Linked DNA regions of Homo sapiens. The protein of the gene in region 1 purifies or fractionates together with the protein of each later gene. This does not show direct contact. Each region holds a gene or a part of one and is shown on either strand. Other genes may lie near its edges.

Evidence for each region. The genes of interacting proteins can lie anywhere in the genome.
Region 2: the proteins of PLAAT3 (region 1) and OCLN purify together in Homo sapiens (affinity purification with mass spectrometry; one large-scale study listed by BioGRID and IntAct). This does not show direct contact.

Annotation. Positions count from the first base shown.
Region 1 is NC_000011.10:63,604,285-63,607,934, forward strand, and holds part of PLAAT3 (phospholipase A and acyltransferase 3), read right to left. Parts: intron 1-3,650. UniProt on the Homo sapiens protein: Exhibits both phospholipase A1/2 and acyltransferase activities. Shows phospholipase A1 (PLA1) and A2 (PLA2) activity, catalyzing the calcium-independent release of fatty acids from the sn-1 or sn-2 position of glycerophospholipids.
Region 2 is NC_000005.10:69,502,679-69,506,328, reverse strand, and holds part of OCLN (occludin), read right to left. Parts: intron 2,153-3,650; 5' UTR 2,085-2,152; coding exon 2,035-2,084; intron 1-2,034. UniProt on the Homo sapiens protein: May play a role in the formation and regulation of the tight junction (TJ) paracellular permeability barrier.

The DNA of each region.
Region 1 (3,650 bases):
ATTATTTTATTGTTTGAATTTTATTAATATGAATTACTTTGACAATAAAAATGTTAAAAAGTATTTAAAGGGAAAAAATACTCATGTTGATGGACTTGCAGTTTTTAAGTTGGGAAATGTAGATATTGTCTGTTGCCAAACCTCATGAAACTGCCTCTCAATTGAAGGTATTAATTTTCTTTTTAATTATATTCTAGGCCGGGCGCGGGGGCTCACACCTGTAATCCCAGCACTTTGGGAGGCCAAGGAAGGTGGATCACTTGAAGTCAGGAGTTTGAGACCAGCCTGGCCAACATGGTGAAACCCTGTCTCTACAAAAAATACAAAAATTAGCCAGGCATGGTGGTACATGCCTGTAGTCCCAGCTACTCAGGAGGCTGAGGCTGGAGAATCGCTTGAACCTGAGAAGTGGAGCTTGCAGTGAGCCCAGATGATGCCATTGCACTCCAATCTAGGCGACAGAGCAAGACTGCCTCAAAAAAAAAAAAGTATTTTCTAGTTTTCCAAAATGTTTAAATAAGCATGTGTTCATTTTAGAACCAGAAATTGAGCTAAGACTTGACAGAATCAGTGGTAATCCATACAATCACTATCATGTAAAAATAGCAAAACAGACACAAGCAAAAAGACTAGAAAGCTCTATAACAATATCCTAATGGACATTCCCTCTGGTTTCTGGGTGCTGGGGCTAAGCGTGGTTTTTGTGATAATTTTTGCTTCCTTCTATTTTTCTATATATTCCAGGTCTTCTGCAATGAGTATCTTTTAAGTTTACAGCATGCTTCTCAACATTTTATCACGAAAAATTTTCAAACGTTCAAAATTGAGGCCGGGCGCAGTGGCTCACGCCTTGTAATCCTAGCACTTTGGGAAGCCAAGGTGGGTGGATCACCTGAGGTCAAGAGTGCGAGACCAGCCTGGCCAACATGGTGAAACTCCATCTCTATTAAAAATACAAAAAAAATGAGCTGGGCATGGTGGAGCACGCCTGTAATCTCAGCTACTCGGGAGGCTGAGGCAAGAGAATCGCTTAAACTCAGGAGGCAGAGGTTGCAGTGAGCCAAGATCACGCCATTGTACTCCAGCCTGGGCGACAAGAGCGAGACTGTCTCAAAAAACAAAACAAAACAAAGTTAAAGGAAGTTTTTTAATGAACGTCTGTATACCTGCCACACAGATTGTGCAATTATGTGACTGTATTTGCTTCATCACAAACATGTCCATCTATTCATTCCCTCTGTCCAGTGTCTTTTTTGTTCTTTGTTTTTGTTTTTGTTTTTGTTTTTGAGACGGAGTCTCGCACTGTCGCCCAGGCTGGAGTGCAGTGGCGCGATCTCGGCTCCCTGCAAGCTCCGCCTCCCGGGTTCACGCCATTCTCCTGCCTCAGCCTCCCGAGTAGCTGGGACTACAGGCGCCCGCCACCATGCCGGGCTAATTTTTTGTATTTTTAGTAGAGACAGCGTTTCACCATGTTAGCCAGGATGGTCTCGATCTCCTGACCTCGTGATCCACCCGCCTCAGACTCCCAAGGTGCTAAGATTACAGACATGAGCCACCGCGCCTGGCCCTTTGTTTGTTTGTTTGTTTAATTTAAGAACTAACGCACTGAGGGAGTCCCAAGCGATGTCAGGGCAATGACAACACAGCCGACCCGCGCTCTGTGCTCAAGTTCACGGGGTTCCTGACTCCAAGCCTGCAGTCTTGATCCGCAGCTGTGGTTCTCAGACCTGAGCCTGCACCAATTACAGAAGAGGGGGTTGCTGACATGCAGGATCACTATAGCTTTTTGGCAATTCCCCTCTTCCGCCATCAAGAGCGCGGTGTAAGCGGCCAACGACACCCCTGGAGAACCCCTTCACCTTGGGAGGATGCCCACCTCTGCTTTGGAGGGCCTAGAAACCCATACACTGGCTGAGCTGTGCGCCCGGCACCAATCTAGGCACCTGGGCTCTGTGATCAGGGCGTGGAGCTTTTTGTTCAGTAACAGGAGACAAAAGGTTTTTAAAAAAATACCTTAGTAGGCCGGCGCGGTGGCTCACGCCTGTAATCCCAGCACGCTGGGAGGCCGAGGCGGGTGGATCACCTGTCAGGAGTTCAAGACCAGCCTCGCCAACATGGCAAAACCCCGTCTCTACTATAAAACACACACACACACACACACACACACACACACACACACCTTAGTAAATAAGTAAATAATCTAGAATATGAGAAGAGATCCGAAACCAACAGAAAGAAACAAAAAGCAGAGCGGAGCAGGGTCGGGAGCTGAGCGCTGGTGGGGTGGGGGCACGGGGTGCAATAGGAATTAGAGAGTCAGGGAGACTCCCAGAGCAGCGAGCTGGAGGCGGCCTCGCCTGGAGGCCGGAGATGAGCCTTGCAGATGGCTAACACCTCCGGCAGGGGGAGCAGCCGAGCAAAGGCCCCAGCGGGGCGCGTGTCTGAGCAACAGCAAGGAGGCCAACGAGGCCGGAGTAGGCGTGCGGGGAGGGCAGAGGGTGGGAAGCGGGGGTAGAACGGAGGGTCCAAGAAAAGCAGCCGGTCCGGAAGGCAACGCAGCACCTGACAGCGCTACACCTTTGCCTCTGTCACTGGCAGGGGCCACTGCCAAGTTTAGAACCCAGGAGACTCAGGATCCAACTTGGGTTTTAAAAGGGTCCCTCTGGCTGCTCCGTTGAGAAGAGATGAGATGTAGGGTGCAAGGAGGAGGCGGGAGCCTGCTAGGAGGCAACTGCAGAGAGGGGGGATCTGGGCATGAGTAGTAATGGATGCTGGATCTCCTTTGAAGCTGCAGCCCACCGACTGTGCTGATGGAATGAGGTGGGGTGTGAAGGAAAGAGGAGTCAGATGACTCCAAGGTGTCTGGACAGAGCAACTGGGAGGCGGGATGGGGCTGTTTAGAGACAGAGTAGGCTGGGGGAGAACCAGGCACTCACGCTGGGCAGCGGGTATCCCAACGAGAGGCGGGGACACAGCGCACACATCAGTATGGAGCTAGGGGTCATGGTTTAGAATGAGGATCATCCGTGTTCCTTATGAGATCAGCTCCTCCTGAGAGTTGGAGGCAAAAGCCTGGCTGAAATGTGTTTGAGAGAATGGGGACACAGTGGCATGTGCCTGTAGTCCCAGCTACTCAGGAGGCTGAGGCTGGAGGATCACTTGAGCCAAGAGTTCAAGGCCAGCCTGGGAAACATGTGAGACCCCATCTCTAAAATTTAAAAAATAATAATAATAATAATAAAGAAAAGAGAGAGAATGGGAGAAGATGAACTGGAGGTGATGTCAAAGAGAGCACCTGAGCACCTGAGATTTTTGTTTCGGTCTTGAAAGATGAGGGAAACTTGTATGTGGTAGAGACATAATTTAAACCCAGATCTAAGGACATCCAAATCCTACACACCGTGCTGCAATCATAGAAGCTGGTGGGGAGGAAGTAGCCTTTATGGAGATGTACGGAGAGAGGCAAGCAGGAGATAAGGAGGAGGCGGAAGGAGAGGGCAGGCAGGGCAGGGGCTTCCACTGTGGTGAGTGGGAATCTCAAGGTGCTTTTGGGGTTTGGTCAGAAGCAGGGTTCTTGGGGTGGAGCCCAAGCCTGGAATTTTTTTTAAAGTTCCCAGGTGGGCCGGGCACAGTGGCTCACGCCTGTAATC
Region 2 (3,650 bases), on another chromosome or scaffold:
GGCATCCATTGTAATATCATTTGTTTGTTCATTCATTCATTCATTCTTAAAAGACAGGGTTTCCCTATGTTGCCCAGGCTGGCCTCAAACTCCTGGGCTCAAGCAATCCTCCTGCCTCAGCCTTCTGAGTAGCTGGGATAACAGGCATGCACCACCACACCTGGCTTTTGTAATACCCTTTATAATAAACCAGTAATGGTAAGTACTGTTTCCCTGAGTTCTGCAAGCCACTTTAGCAAATTAATTGCACCCAAGGAGACAACTGTGGGAATCCTGATTTACTGTAGGTGGGTCAGAAACACAGGCCACAACCTGAGCTTGTGGCTGCTACGTGAAGTGGGGGCAGTCTTGTGGGAATGAGCCCTGAACCTGTGATCTGATGCTATCTCTGACAGTGTCAGAATTGAACTGATAATTAGAGGACACACAGCTATTGTCCACTGTAGAACTGATTACTTGGTTGCTGGTGGGGAAATATCCCCACAAATTCTGGTGATCAGAGGTCACAGATGTGTTGTGACAGAACAGCAGGAGAAACTGTTTGTTTTTGCCTATATCACACTCCACTACACTTATCATGGTTAAAGCTGCAAACTACTTAGAGGAGGAAATCCCTATCAATGTTTGATAGCAAATTTGGAATTCAAAAATTCACTGATAAGTCTTCACATGACCAAGGAGCCCAAAACCCCTCAACACTGCTTGTTTTAGATCATGGCAGGAATCACTCTTAAAACTGACAGTATGGAAAGTATTATGCTAAGTGAAAGAAGCCAGTTACAAAAGGCCACATATTACGTGATTTCTCCATTTATACAAAATATGCAGAATAGACAAATCTATAGAGACAGAAAGTAGACCAATAGTTGCTTAGGGCTGATGGAACTGGGAGGTGACTGCCAATGGATAGGTTTCTTTGGAGAGTAATGAAATGTTCTAAAATTAATTGTGGTGATGGTTCTACAACTCTGTGAATATACTAAAAACCATTAAACTATCCATTCTAAATGGGTAAATTGTAAAGTATGTTAATTATATCTCAATAAAGCTGTTATTTTTATTTATTTATTTATTTTTTGAGACGGAGTTTTGCTCTTGTCACCCAGTCTAGAGTGCAATGGCGCCATCTCAGCTCACCTCAACCTCCGCCTCCTGGGTTCAAGCGATTCTCCTGTCTCAGCCTCCCAAATAGCTGCAATTATAGGCATGCATCACCATGCCCGGCTAATTTTGTATTTTCAGTAGAGATGGGGGTTTCTCCACGTTGGTCAGGATGGTCTTAAACTCCCGACCTCAGGTGATCCACCCGCCTCGGCCTCCCAAAGTGCTGGGATTACAGGCATGAGCCACCAGGCCTGGCCTTTTTTCTTTTTTTCAGACGGAGTCTCGCTCTGTCTCTAGGCTGGAGTGCAGTGGCGTGATCTCGGCTCACTGCAACCTCCACCTCCTGGGTTCAAGTGAATCTCCTGCCTCAGCCTCCCAAGTAGCTGGGATTACAGGCAAGTAGCTGGGATTAGAGGTGCGCGCCACCACAGCCAGCTAATTTTTGTATTTTTAGTAGAGACGGGAGTTCACCATGTTGGCCAGGATGGTCTCGATCTCTTGACCTTGTGATCCGCCAGCCTCGGCCTCCCAAGGTGCTGGGATTACAGGCGTGAGCCACCGCACCCGGCCTAAAGCTGTTATTTTTAAAAACTGACAATATGTTCCCAATGGCCACCTAAATGAGGCATTTAAATGGAAGCTTCATTATCATTTGTACAAAACAAAAAGGAACATACAAATATAAACCTTGGCAATCTCTTGAAACAAACATTAGGAATAGGTGACAGCAGTTGTCCTAGCAGAGACAAACTGTCATTCTGAAAGTTGAGAGAAATTCAGTTTTCAGTGCAGACCCTTTGATACAATTTAAATTTACAAGTACACATATCGTTTTATTTTTAAAAGCAAACACTTAAAGTTTCAACCATACTTATTGTTTACATGTGATAGACTTTTTAAAAGAGAATAACTAAAGAATTATTTACTTACAATTCATCAGGCCTGTAAGGAGGTGGACTTTCAAGAGGCCTGGATGACATGGCTGATTGTCAATGGTCAGCTGATCTTCAGGATGAGCAATGCCCTTTAGCTTCCAAGATAAACCAATCTAAGCAACAAAAGTAGAGTTATGGCATTACTACTAAGCTCACAGTTTCTTTCTTTTCTTCATCCCACCCCCACCCCGAGACAGGGTCTCACCCTGTCACCCAGGCTGGAGTGCAGTGGTCCAATCACAGCTCACTGCAGCCTTGATCTACCAGGCTCAAGTACTCCTCCTACCTCAGCCTCCCAAGTAGCTAGGACTACAGACCTGCACCACCATGCCTGGCTAATTCCTGTATTTTTTGTACAAAAATTTGAAATATATATAATTTCATATTACTTTTGAAAGTTCATATTAAATGAGAATGTATAAGAAAGTGCACATATAGCCGCACTAGCACATACTAGCTCCTCAATGCAAAGTAACCATCTAATGGGTTAAATGCCTTTATCATTAAAAATGATAATAAAATGCATCTATAAATGGTGGAATTGTAGATATTTTTCCCTTATCTCCTTTTCCAAGTCTTCGAAACTGAGCACAATTTTTATACAAGGGGAGAAAAAACAATATGCATGGTATTAATTGGTCATTTTCTGAAATTTTGTCCTAAAATTCTTCAGCACAAGTTCCTAAACATCTGAGGAGAAATTTCACTCAACAAGCATTTATTAAGTGCCTACACTAGACCAGGAGAGCCTGTGGGAGTGACGTATGACAGCCAGCGCTGGGGTCCTGGCTCTTCCAGGCTGGTGTGGTGCTGATAACACAGGTGGCTAGCTTATGGAACAGTGAAGTGGGAGCATGGTGGAATGGTGTCATCTTTTAAAATAAGGTTACAGTAAGAATATAGTGGATGGAGGATGAGTAAGAAAAGGGAGGGCTTTGAAAGTCTAGTGGGAGTGTCTCACTTCCTTCAGGTAGGAAACAGGGAGCCAGTTCGTGATTCTCGGCAAGGGAGGTGTAAGTTTGATTTGAACCAGATTTGAAAGACAAAGTCAACAGTAAAAAGGAGCACCTACAGTCAGCAGCAGCAAACCTAGGTGTGAGGCAACAATGAAGGACTAGCTTAGGAGACAGAAGATAGGAAGGAAACTAACATTCATCAGACACCTACCGACGTGCTGGGTGCTTTACATAAAACCTCCTTTCATCCTCAAAACGACCCTCCATGGTTGATTAGTCACTTTACAGATGCAAAGAGGGTCAGAAAGAGATGTGAAGTAATATGCTCAAGGTTATATGGATGTCAGTGAGTCACTCAGATGTAACTTGAACCCAGATGATTTCATGTGCTTTTCACTATGCTAGTTTGAAACAATGAGTTCCATTTGGGAAACACCAGTTTTTGTGGGGAGTGCACATCTGGTGTTAGCATCCATGAGGAAGTGAAGATGGAGGTCATCTGCCTACGTCCGTAGGTGGATCCATGGGCACTGAGAGCTCTCCAGGAAAAAGACAAGTCTCAGCAAGATGTGGTAAACACACAACCCCCTAACCTATAAAGCTTGAGGATTATTCTAGAAAACCCAGTGCTGGAGACACTGGCAAGGTACTTCCC